Homo sapiens: one gene and its partner. The protein of the gene in region 2 interacts with the protein of the main gene of each other region in a pairwise test. Each region holds a gene or a part of one and is shown on either strand. Other genes may lie near its edges.

Evidence for each region. Proteins that work in one complex are often made in the same cells at the same time.
Region 1: the proteins of SLC35A5 (region 2) and SACM1L interact in binary tests that used the Homo sapiens proteins (3 or more experiments, as listed by UniProt).

What each region holds. Positions count from the first base shown.
Region 1 is NC_000003.12:45,692,383-45,699,412, reverse strand, and holds part of SACM1L (phosphatidylinositol-3-phosphatase SAC1), read right to left. Parts: intron 1-7,030.
Region 2 is NC_000003.12:112,572,036-112,579,065, reverse strand, and holds part of SLC35A5 (UDP-sugar transporter protein SLC35A5), read right to left. Parts: intron 5,178-7,030; coding exon 5,110-5,177; intron 1-5,109. UniProt on the Homo sapiens protein: Probable UDP-sugar:UMP transmembrane antiporter involved in UDP-alpha-D-glucuronate/UDP-GlcA, UDP-GlcNAc/UDP-N-acetyl-alpha-D-glucosamine and UDP-N-acetyl-alpha-D-galactosamine/UDP-GalNAc transport from the cytosol to the lumen of the Golgi.

The sequences.
Region 1 (7,030 bases), about 67 Mb from region 2:
TGATACACCATGAGGCTTCATTTGAACCACAGCTACATAAACCAGAGCCCAGCCTAATATGAGCATTTTTTTATTTTTTTATTTTTACCATTACTGCTACTATTATTTTTTTATTTATTTATTTATTTTAATTATACTTTAAGTTTTAGGGTACATGTGCACATTGTGCAGGTTAGTTACATATGTATACATGTGCCATGCTGGTGCGCTAGATATGGAGTAAAATACCAGAAGTTGCTTAAAAAAGTAGATGCCTCTGTTATTATAAGCTTTGTATACTACTTACTTTTAAACCGTATACATAAGATTGAAATAAAAATAAGATTTAAAAACTGTATTACAGGCCAGGCGCAGAGGCTCATGCAAAATCCCAGCACTTTGGGAGGCCGAGGCGGGTGGATCACAAGGTCAGGAGATCGAGACCATCCTGGCCAACATGGTGAAACCCGTCTCTACTAAAATACAAACAAAAAAATTAGCTGGGTGCGGTGGCACGTGCCTGTAGTCCCAGCTACTCGGGAGGCTGAGACAGGGGAATCGCTTGCTTGAACCCAGGAGGTGGAGGTTGCAGTGAGCTGAGATCACGCCACTGCACTCTAGGCTGGTGACAGAGCAAGACTCCGTGAAGTTAGGAGTTCAGTCAAGACCAGCCTGGCCAACATGGTGAAACCCTATCTCTACTAAAAATACAAAAATTAGCCAGGCATGGTGGCAGGCGCCTGTAATCCCAGCTACTCAGGAGGCTGAGGCAGGAGAATCGCTTGAACCTGGGAGGCGGAGGTTGCAGTGAGCAGAGATTGCGCCATCGCACTCCAGCCTGGGGCACAAGAGCGAGACTTTGTCTCAAAAAAAAAAGTATTATAACAAAGTATACAAATAAGAGTAATTATGGATCAAGGTAGAGATGTCTCGCTCAAAAGTCCTGAGGCCTTTGCTTGATCTTCTCTCTCTGAGAGATGCTGTTGGAATCTAAATTGCTGATGCTGCCATCAGGCTATTCTGATAATGTCACTGAAAGTGGTATCTCTAGGCTTAAGAATTGGAGCAATGAAAATGTGAACAGTGACTGCCAGGGAATCAACATTTCTAGGGATGCTCATTAGAAGTAATGACTCACAATTCTGTTAACCATAACAGCAGGTATCATCCTAACTCACGGCACCTACATATATGCCCTTACTGTTCTCTTCCTCTCATTTCCCACCACTTTTGTATTGGTCTTAATACTGATCTGAAGCATAATTGTTTTATGTAATAAATTTTATTCTATGTTTTATGCTTCCTGGGCTTCATTTCAAAAGCCAGTGAAATTAACTTTAACTCTCTAGCATTTAAACCGTCAAAAACAATTAAGTAAACATTCAGTGGTATAATTTTTCCTGGTGTGTATTGTTTTATTGCTATTTTTGTGTTTAAATCTTTACCAAACAAGCTATCATATTACTTATTTTATGAAATGGATTTCGGAAGACAAGATTCGATCCAAGAAGATTATTTGGTCATTATCTATACTGTTGATAACAGATCTCTAAGGTTCAAAGTAATACTGTATACTAAAAAGGGTTCTGGTCCTATATAAACTATCTGGTGAGGTGATTAGCCTCCAATTCACTATTAACTCTAACTGAACAAGAATCCTACCAAATATCTGTCAAGACAAGGGGATCCCATACCTACCCAGAGTTCTGGTTCCCATTAATAAGACACATACTATGGAAGATATATCAAAATAGCATAATACTTGTATAATAATTGCTCCTATTTTGACTACCTTCATTCAGTTCGTCATTTTGCTTTTAAGGATTACTGTCCAAGCATGGCATAAAAAAGAAAAAGTGGTTGGATACAGTGCTCATGCCTGTAATCCTAGCACTTTGGGAGGCTGAGGCAGGAGGACTGCTTGAGCCCAGGAGTTTGAGACCAGCCTGGGCAACATGGCAAAACCCCGTTTCTACAAAAAATGCAAAAATTAGCCAGGTGTGGTGGTATGCACCTGTGGCCTCAGCTATTCAGGAGGCTGAGGTCGGAGGATCACTTCAACCTGGGAGGCAGAGGCTGCTCTGAGCCAAGATCGCACCACTACACTCCAGCCTGGGCAACAGAGCAAGAGCCTGTCTTAAAAAAAAAAAAAAAAAAAAAAAAAGGAAAAGAAAAGAAAAACAAAGCAGGAGGATCTTGAGGCCAGGAGTTTGAGACCAGCCTGGTCAACACAGCGAGATCTCATCTCTACAAAAAATGTTGAAATAAAAAAAAAAGAAAGAATCAACACTTAGGTTGCTTCCTCCTTTTTGACTGTTGTGAATAATGCTGCTATGAACAGGGGTATACAAATCCCTCTTTGAGACCTTACTTTTAATTATTTTGAGTATCCCAGAAGTGGAACTGGGACTAAAAGCTAAATGCAACAAAGGCAGTTCTGGTATTACACTTAATACAAATGCATTTAATCTTATAGTCACCTGGGATTCAACAGCTCTTAAGAGTGTTTTTTAAAAAATTAGTCTTGTTAAATTTTAAGAAAAGCAATATCTTTAATTATAATATTAACATCAAATATTTTTATTTTCTTTCAGTGTTGGCATTGCGATTTTCTAGTGTCTGAAAACATTTATCTCTCATGTAACATTCACGTCTTATTTCAGACAACTGATCTCTTTAAAATCCTGTCAAATCAATGAGTAAAACTGGCCCACTACAAAAACATTACTACTTACCAACCTCATACCCATTAAAATGGCTATTATCTAGAAGGAAAAAAAAAACAAACCCAGGATAGAAAATAACGAGTGTTGGCTAGGATGCGGAGACACTGGAATCCTGGTGCTTTGTGGGTGGGAATGTAAAACGGTGCAGCCACTATGGGAAAACAGTATGGTGGCCCATTAAAAATTAAAAATAGAATTCCCATATGACCCAACAATTCCACTTCCGGGTATATACTCAAAATAACTGAAAGTAGGGTTTCAAAAAGGTATTTGTATACTCACATTCATACTGGCATTACTCACAATAGCCAAAAAGGTGGAAGCCACCTATGTGTCTATTAACAAATGAACAAACGAAATGTGGTACATACATATAATGGAATATTATTCAGCCTTAGAAAGGAAATTCTGGGCCAGGCACAGTGGCTCAGGCCTGGAATCCCAACACTCAGGGAGGACGAGGCAGGCGGATCACGAGGTCAGGAGATGGAGACCATCCTGGCAAATGCAGTGAAACCTTGTCTCTACTAAAAATACAAAACAGTAGCTGGGCGTGGTGGCAGGCACCTGAAATCCCAGCTACTTAGGAGGCTAAGGCAGGAGAATTGCTTGAACCCAGGAGGCAGAGGTTGCAGTGGGCCGAGATCGCACCACTGTACTCCAGCATAGGCAACAGAGCGAGACTCCATCTCAAAAAAAAAAAAAAAAAAGGAAATTCTGACACATGCTACACAATGGATGAACCTTAAGGACATTATGCTAAGTGAAATAAACCAGTCATAAAAGGACAAATACTGCCACTTCATGAGGCATCTAGAGAAGTCAAATTTATAGAGACAGAAAGTAGAACGGTGGTTGCCAGGGGCTGGGAGGATACAGAAATGGGGAGTTGTTTAATGGGTACAGAGTTTATTTTTGCAAGATGAAAACGGTTCTGGTGATGGATGGTGATAACGGTTGTACAACATGAATGTGCTTATTGCCCCTGAACTGTATACTTAAAAATGGTTGAGATGGTAAATTTAATGTTTTATTTTACCACAATTTTTAAAAATAATGAAACCACTATTTTGCATAGGAGCCACAGTGATATGTCATAAAACTGTAGCAAGAACATATTCCCTCAAAAATCTTACGTAAAGAATTTGGCTGGGTGCAGTGGCTCATGCCTGTAATCCCAACACTTTGGGAGGCCGAGGCAGGTGGATCACTTGAGGTCAGGAGATCAAGACCAGCCTGGCCAACATGGTGAAACTCTGTCTCTACTAACAATACAAAAATTAGCCGGGCCTGGTGGTGCATGCCTGTAGTCCCAGCTACAAGGGAGGCTGAGGCACAAGAATCACTTGAACCTGGGAGGTGGTGGTTGTGGTGAGCCGAGACTGCGCCACTGCACTCCAGCCTGGGCAACAGAGTGAGACCCCATCTCAAAAAAAAAAAAGAATTAAATCAAGGTCTTAATGATCAAATTTAATACATCTCTGGTTGAAAAGACAGAGGCACAACACTTTACTAGGTTTGGTGAGCAAAAAGAAAACAACTTAGTAAAGAAGGATCCCCTGCACATACTACACTCATAGGCAGAAGGTGCTCCTACCTCCCCCATTCATCCTCCCTTTGGGTATCTCCTCACTGAGCCCTCCCTGGTTGCCTCTCCTATAGCTCAAGTTCATCACAGACTCCCCAGGGGCACAACCCAATTCCAAACCAGTTGGTGTTTCTAGAAAGACTCATTCTAATGCTATCCTCTTTCTCAAAACTCTGTGTTCCCACCTATATCCTATTCCCTGAATGCCCTAAAACCCATTCTCTCAACCAGACTTCTTCACAGGACTAGGTCCAAATTCCACCTAATCTGAAGCTCTAATCCACAGCACAATCTACCAGAGCCCCATATCTTCCAAAGAATTCTCTTCTACCAGCATGTTCTGGTCCTAACTCAGCTATGTATGCCCAGCCCTAAAATATTTCAGAGTGCATAAAAACTACCAGGATAGCTAGTTAAACTTGCAGATTTCCACCGCTCATCCCCAGAGATTTTCACTCAGTAGGCCTAATGTGGGGCCCTGGAATACGCACTTAAAACAAGCATACCAAGTCATTTGATGTAGCCTAGCACTAACCTAGGCTAGCCACGTGAGCCTAGGTAAGCCTGAACTAGCCTGAACTCCCAGCCAACTAATGCTTTGGATACAAACCCCATATTGTCTGTGCTAAAACTCATGAGAATAATCTGAGCTGCCCTACACCCTTCCCTCCACCGGGAGACTTCTGTGAATAATATGAATGTTCATTATATTGAACAGATTATATGTGTCTGTATCACAAGGTAGCTTAGGTTACATCTGTTTTCAAGGTTGGATCATATCTGCCCTGACTGATGACCTCACAGTTATGAGACTCTTTTAAAAATGGCAATTTCCTGAGGAAACAGTACTCTTCAGAGGCATGCTGCAGCCTGATGCAGTAACTAAAGGATTCCCTGCCTTACACCTAGTTTCAACTGACCTTTTAAAAGAAAAAGAAAAAAAAAGAAGAAAAAATGCTTTAAATGTATCCAATAATTTTGCACCTCTAACTTTCCACTGAACCTTTTAGAAAGTTATTATGAGCTTGAGGTCTGAGGGGCCTAAGAAGTGCCCAAACCACATTTGATGTCATTTCCCTGCAAAGGAAATGTGACACCTACGCCGAACTGCCAAGGTATTTTAGCTTATATACAGGGATAGATAAGCTTCTTAAAAATTACATTTCCAGTCTAATTATTTTGCAATTTCAAATTTATCACTGTCTGACATTATCCATGCCTATACAAATGGCTTAAAAAGAAAAATGGAGCCTAACAGGATATTTAGAACTGCCTGGAAGTTTAAAAAGTATGAATTTTAAATTCTGAGCAAATCAATATTCTGTTTTCCACATTAAACATATGGAAATTAATATGGACATGTCAACTATATTTGGTTGTAAGTGACTCATTTCAATACCTGGCATGTCTGAGGACTAATGCGAGAGCAATCTGGTAAGAGAAAAAAAGGTCATATGGATAATGCAATGAAATGGAAAGATCACTGGACTCTGGACCAGCCGTATTCCAAGGCTAGCTCTACCATGGCTTGGCTGTATGATCTGACTTTGTGGCCAAGGGCAATTATGAGACTGTTTTCAACAATGACAGGATACCTATCAACCTATGACCTCACAGAGACACTGGGAAGACAATATACATGAAATGACTTTTAAGCTGTGTTTCTTCAAAACGATACATTCCAAATTACCCTAGACTGTGTTCTTTTTGCAGTGCTAGTACGTGGTCTATACTGGAAAGTTCCTTTCATTTACTCAGTTGATTCACTGAGGAGCTGCTCTGCACAAGGCTCTATGTTAGGTACTGAGGAGGACTAGAGAAGAAAATGTTAAGGTGTAAACTGGTTGGAGAAACAAAGTACAGCCATGTGCCATGTAACAATGCTTTGGTCAACGACAGACTACACATATGATGGTGGTCCTATAAGCTTATAATACCGTATATTTACTGTACCTTTTCTTGTTTATGTATGTATACATACACAAATCTTTACCATTGTGTTGCAACTGCCTACAGTATTCAGTACAGTAACCTGCTGTACAGGTTTGTAGCCTAGGAACAACTGGCTATTCCATATAGCCTAGGTGTGTAGTAGGCTGTACCATCTAGGTTTGTGTAATTATACTCTGATGTTTGTACAAAGAAGTTGCCTAACATATTTCTAACATATTTCTCAGAATGTATCTCTGTCAGTAAGAGTCACATAACGGTGTACATAATGATTTCATTTCTAAGTGACAAAATGAGTGGTTCAAACAGTACTATGGATTGACCATTCTAGCTTTCCATCCTCTTGTCCATGAGAAAGTAAATGCACTGTAAACTGATCCTAAGAGACAGAATACATAAATCATGTAAACATTTGGTGTCTAACCCTGTTACAATAATTTTTCATTTTTGGCTTTAAAAACTGTTACCAGAACTCAGTGAAGGAAAAGACATGGAAAGAAAACATTTCTCAAAGAAGGTACCTATGAGGTACACTAAGTACTTCATCTAAACTCTCTTTGGGCCAGGCATGGTGGCTCATGCCAGTAATTCCAGCACTTTGGGAGGCCAGGGTGCATGGATCACTTAAGACGAGGAGTTCAAGTTTCAGCAACATGGCGAAACTGAAAAACAGAAAAAATCAGCCAGACATGGTGATGTGCACCTGTAGTCCCAGATGCTTTGGGGGCTGAGGTGAGAGGATCACTTGAGCCTGGGAGGCTGAGGCTGCAGTGAGCTGAGCTCACAC
Region 2 (7,030 bases):
TGCACACTATTATATGCTTTCTCATATGTATGTAATTTTCAAATAGCCTGATCTAGAACTTACTGATGGCGTTAGCGCAGCCTTATGCCATCAGGTGAGAAACTGTGAACTAACCACTTAAATTTCTGAAGGTGCAGCTGATACACATTAAGTAGCAGAAAACAAATAGAATGACCACAGAGATAAAAAATGGGTGTCCATTTTACAAAAAAAATTCCATAATTAATTATTGCAAATCGCATATAAGTGAGGCAATGATATAATCTATAGTTCCTTTAAAAGTTTTCTAGAGCTATACATTTTTCACTAATATTAAGAAAAAAGAAAGAAATCCTTAAGCTAAACAACACCTTCTGTAAACAATTACTCATTCAAGGTAATGCTCTAAGGAACGTAAAATTTATTAAGGATTAAGCTAAAAATTAAAAATGGTAGATTTTTAGGAAAGAAAATAAAGCTTAATAAATTACCCTGTAAAGTCAGCTGACAATCTGAAATGACAACTGAGTCTGCTAGGCCCAATTTGTTCTTCAGTTTAACTGATACAAAACAGTGGAAGCTCACTTCACTCATCTCTCCACTGCCTCGGTAAAACATAGTAATGGATGCTCAGAGCCGAATGCCTGTGGCTAGAAGGCTACTCTTCCTGAGGGCCTCTCCTCCCAAGTGAATTGTTTGCCCACAGAATCTCTGTTCCTAAACATGTTTTTGCCAGGTGACCTCACTGTTGTCACTACATAAAGATTACATAAATGATAAACTATGAGTAAAAGACAAGAAGCTGTTTTTATGAAAACTAAGTTGAACACTTTGGGAAGACTAAGTGAAGGTAAATCATTCAGAAGATAAAAAGCTGTTTTCTAATAACATATAGGTGAGCTAAGGAACTTCAATCAGTAACATACTCAAAGGGGGGGCTTTAGTTCAACATTAGAAGAATGATGAATACATGTATATTTACATATTCTAAGTTAAAATAAATTGTTTAGATATTTTCTATATATACTTATGTATATGATTCATCACTATAAGTTTTCCTAGCAACTAACCAATAGGTTCAAATTGTGTCAGATAAGAGCACTTCTATATTTGGTGGTAGTAAACTAGTGCAGGGTATGAAGACAATTAAATGGAAAGACTCACATAATTGTTTTCTCAAGAAACTGTACAAAACACATTTCTTAGTAGCACAAAGAGAGTGACAAGGGGCAGATTTATAATGAGAAGTCACAGAGAAAATTTATCAACTGAATGAATGATTCTGGAGAAATGCTTGTACTACTACTGAGTGGCACTTCTCTTTGTTCTTCTGCTGTTTCAGACAGTAACTAAACTTTACCCTTACTTCCTAGACATCCACCATGTTTCAAAATGTATTTTTAAATAATTTTTTTCCATACCTTCTCTTTGAGGAAATCAGAGAAACTTATATACATTTTTTAGGTAAAAATAAGTGCTGGTCTTGGTTATCCTTTGCCTCCAATCTCAATGTTTAGGTTGGTATTATTTCCCAAAGCTAAAGCAAACAAAATTGTGCAACTTTGCTTAGGTTACAAGCAAACCAGGGAAGCAAGCTACAAGGCATAATGCCTGCTACCAGTTTCTACCATGAACCAGTGGCTTATACTTCAAAGAACAAATCTATACATTCACATAAAGTTTGAATCCTTGGAAAATAACATGCTAATAATCTAATATTGTGGCTTATACTTCAAAGAACAAATCTATACATTCACATAAAGTTTGAATCCTTGGAAAATAACATGCTAATAATCTAATATTGTCTTTTATGAGAATGCCTTTAGGTATTTTATTCTTTTTAGAAAAGACAATAGGACATTTAGATGATAATATTTTTTTTCCCACTTTCAAATTCCTCCAAGTAATCCCTGCAGTAGTTACCAGACTTACTTTTGCCTGCTTTTGTAGCCTCATATTCTTTTTAAGAATTTTTAAAAATTATTTTTTTTTTTCTTAAAAAATTTTTTTTAAAAATTATTCTATTTTATTTTGTAGCCTTGTATTCTTTACCTGTATGGGAAAGGTATTTGATAGTTCTGATACAATCAAGTATAAGACAACAGATTTAATATTCTAAATGAAAAGTGGCAAACAAAGAATATGTGATAGAACTATTAAGCTGCTACTCCTAGGTCAAAATTTAATCACAAAGGGCAAAAAGACCATCAAATGATTCACAAAGAGTAAATTAAATAGGGAAAACCAATGCACACCACCAACTCCAAAAAGATCAAAATAGAACAAAGTTAAGTTGACTTCAAAATGTAATAAAAGCACATACATCAATGAGATATTTTTCAGCTTTAAAAATTGGAAGGAAATCCTGTCACATGCTACATGGATGAACCGTGAAGACAATATGCTAAGCTAAGTGAAATAAGCCAGTCCCAAAAGACAAATACTGTATGATTCTATTCATATGAGGAATCTAAAGTAGTCAAATTCAAAGAAAAAAAGAGAGTGAAATGGTAGTTATCAGGGGTTAGGGTGAGGCGGGGAAAGGAGAGTTGTTTAATGGACTTAGAGTTTCAAATTTGTAAGGTGAAAGAGTTCAACATCTACTTCACAACATGAATAGACTTAACACTACTAAACTGTATGCTTAAAAATTGTTAAGATGGGCTGGACGCGGTGGCTCACGCCTGTAATCCCAACACTTTGAGAGGCCAAGGCAGGTGGATCACAAGGTCAGGAGATCAACACCATCTTGGCCAACAGGTGAAACCCTGTCTCTACTAAAATACAAAAAATTAGCCAGGCGTGGTGGCACGTGCCTGTAACACCAGCTACTGGGGAGGCTGAGGCAGGGGAATCACTTGAACCCAGGAGGCGGAGGTTGCAGTGAGCTGAGATTGCAACCCTGCACTCCAGCCTGGCGACAGAGCAAGACTCCGTACCCACCCCCACTGCCAAAAAAAAAAATTAAGATGGCAAATTTTTTTTCTTTTTTTCACAATTAGAAAAAAGAGTTAAAAAATGTAATAAGGCCAGGCGTAGTGGCTCACACCTGTAATCCCAGCACTTTGGGAGGCCAAGGTGGGCAGATCACCTGAGGTCAGGAGTTTGAGGCCAGCCTGGCCAAAATGGTGAAACTCTGTCTCTACTAAAAATACAAAAATTAGCTGGGCGTGGTGGTGTGCACCTATATTCCCAGCTACTTGGGAGGCTGAGGAACAAGAATTGCTTGAAGACGGGAAGAGGAGGTTGCAATGAGCCAAGACGGTGCCACTGCACTCCAGCCTGGGTGACAGAGTAAGACTCTGTCTCAAAAAAAAAAAAAAAAAAAGTAATAAAATACTTAAAAGGCATTCTCATAAAAGACAATATTAGATTATTAGCACGTTATTTTCCAAGGACTCAAAACAGAGAGATGTTAACAACAAAGCAAATATATGTCTAAGAATCATTATTATTCCTCTGAAAATAAGAAAGTATGTAGAAATTTTTTTTGAACTTTAATTCATACCAGTGTTAGTTATTATTAAAATTAGCAAAATGCAATCAATATTATAACTAGTATTAAAAGCAAATATTTAAAATGTATAGTATAAATAGATTTAGATTTAAACTTAGAATGAACTTTCTTAATACAAATAGTTAAATGCTTAAAAATTTAACAAGGAATACTTATTATAGGATAGGACTAAAGCTACTGGCCAATTTCAAGTCAGGCAATACATACTTTTAGTCTTTAGTAAATTCAGTTTGAAATTGATGTAATTTTGATGTAATATTTTTATATTATACAACTTCAGTATAATACCATCTGTACTCATTTAAAGTAAATGACAAACACTTTAAAAATACATGTTTTTGAGACCTGTACTCCCTTATTAAATCGTGATCCTTTTATCATCTTGGAATATGGAAATGGTCTTGGAACCATTTTATCTTCACAGAAGTACATCGCTAATCTATCACAGGAATCAATATACAAATATTATTGCTTGCTTACCTTTTCTCAAAAGTCAACTTTTTATACTACAAAGTGAGATTCAAACTGATTTCAAAGACTTCAAAATGTTTTTGGAATATCTTTTTTTTAGTTAAAGAATTATTTTCACAATTCACAAATAAATTGACAGATACGTAGAACAAACTTCGATGTACTCTAACATTTAAACTGGGCTAAATGTAATGTTCACTTTTTCCTTATCTCTCACATTAACTATCAAATTAAATGTTTCCTCAGGGTAAAAGAAAATACATCAGGAATCTTATATAATTTATATATTAAGTATATCATGGACTCAACAAATTAAATCTTTGTACCAAGCCAGTCACCCTTTCATATACACAAATTATGAAAGAACATACTATCACACAGCACACTGAGAATCAATAAATCAAAAAGATAATGTAAAATTTAAAAAAAACAAATCTAATAAGAAATTAATTTTATTTTTTAATCATTATCATTAAGTAAGAAATTAAACTGAAGTTAAGTATCCAGATCCTGTATCATCTTCCTGCCTTAGGACACTCTGGCTTTTGCTTTGAAGAGAGCTTAATTTACTTAAAAATGTTTATACTATTCAACGGTCCTCTTGGAGATAGTAAAAACTGGTGATAACATTTTTAAAAGTTTAAAAAACTATCCTTCTTAACTATAATTTTGACTAGATTCTTCACACACTCTGCTAATTAGTGCTTAAATCACGTCCTCATCTCAAATAGTTTAATAAAAAATTGGCCATTATCTATCATCTCCAAACTACAAATTACAAATATATTAACAATCTTAGGAACCATTTGCTTCCCTATTAGTGCAGAAAGATTTTGCATAAAAAGCTCATTAATTCTTTGTTGAAAATCTGGCACTAAATATGAAAATACTAATTATAACACAGTCAATTATCTTATTTTTAAGATGCTCAAGACATTTTCATTCATCTGATCACAGAGGATTTAGATGGACTAGCACTGGAGCTGCTTTCTACATGGCTTAAACGTGCCCAGTACACAAAGTCAATTAGGAACAAAATCCTGGCTTTGGGATTCTGACGGCTCAGTGTTCTGGGTATATCATTTGAAACCGGGCTATGTTATTTTAAAGTATGATATATGTTTTCACAGCAAGTTACTTACTTCAGCACTATCCTGAATAGAAGAGCTGTTGTTATAATGCTAAAATTTGAGAAGATAACAGCCATGGCCTAGAAAGAAAGAGAAGATAGAGTTACAATCCAAATGAAGTACTGACCTCAGAAATGTCTTAGCTTGGCAGTTCACCTGACAAAAAAAGCTTTTTGGTCAAAAAACAGAGGGGTTATTAAGGTAGCAATTTCAACTAAGGATTAAATTCCAGTTTTGTCGCTTGTCAAATTTACGTAGATATGATCAAATTATTGTCCAGGCATTGCCTGTGTAAATAATCTTTATATACAGATCTGAAATTACTTATAAATTCTAAAGGTTTAGGTTTAGAAATGACAGTTGCTATGCTTATGAAGCCTACTTTTCAAAGTTCTCAAAGCGCCTTATGGATTTTTAACACTGTTTCTACGGTCACATAGAAGGCAGGTACTGTATGGCCCATTAATATAGTAAGAAAACTGAAGTATAGATTTTTTTAAGCATCTTTACCATTCTAGGAATTGTATCAATTTTCCTGGTTGAACTGCAGTAACTCAATACCAAACTCATACTTGACAGCCCTGCGCACTGATTCAAGTTGTTCTAAACACTTAGAAATGTATCAGCCAGATTTTAAAACCATTTGTTTTTACGAATTCAGTCCTATTTCACACATGAGAGTATTAATCTGAACATGTATACATTATGCTCAGAAAGCATGAAATTCCATCATTGCTGCCCATAATTAGATCTGACAATAGTTAATAATTTTTTAATGCAAATCTTAGGATGTACTTCACCCTGCCTTCCTGCTTGCTATCACTTTAAGGTGATTAAACCCCAAAAGATATTAACAGTCATATATACCCACTAATTAAAACAAACATGGCTAATATGAAGCTAAATTAAAGATAAAACTCAATGAAAAATGGCAACAACTCCAAGAATATAACATTGTTGTTTTTCTATTACATTCTTATGGGAACCACCATTTTAAGGTTTTCTCAGTGTACTTCTCTGTAGGCAAATGCCTGTGAACCCCTAGTTAGGAGATGAGTAAGAGGAAAAGAGGAAAGTGGCTGTGAAGTGTGGAAATAGTGGCCTTGATCAATCACATTAAGGGCAGTGCAAAAGTGCCTAACCATGCAGCCTGACGGCTTGATGAATTCTGAAAATTCTGAATACTCTTTCCATGCAAGAGGATAAAATAAAAACATCAGAGCTCTTTGGCCCAAACATTCCATGCATCTCTATTTAATTCCTTCAATAGGCTCAGGCACAGCAATACACAGAGTATGCATGTGTTTTATTCTGTAAGATATATGGTTGTTCACAATCAGGAAGGAAGAGCAAAACAATAAGCTGGAAGAAAAATAAGGAAGTTGCCATTTTGCTTTGGTACTGGGGGACACAGAAAAGAGACACAAATTTAGAGTGAATCTGTGATAAAATACAATAAAATGTATTGAATTTGCATAATTTTGTTGGGGACAGCAATTCTCAAAAATGGAAGAATTTAGGAGAGAACAGATCCTAGGTGGACTGGACACTTATTAGCAACATGCATTACAGAGCCAAAGAAAACTTCAGGTGATCACCTGGCCCAGTTCCCTGCCTTTGAACTAGTATATTATTATTATTATTATTATTTATTTCATAGAGGGGGTAACTGAAACTTAAAGCAGTTGGGCCTGCCTAGTTACACAGCTTCTAAACTGTGGAAAGTCGGCCGGGCACGGTGGCTCACGCCTGTAATCCCAGCACTTTGGGAGGCCGAGGCGGGTGGATCATGAGGTCAGGAGATCGAGACCATCCTGGCTAACAAGGTGAAACCCCGTCTCTACTAAAAATACAAAAAATTAGCCGGGCGCGGTGGCGGGCGCCTGTAGTCCCAGCTACTCGGGAGGCTGAGGCAGGAGAATGGCGTGAACCC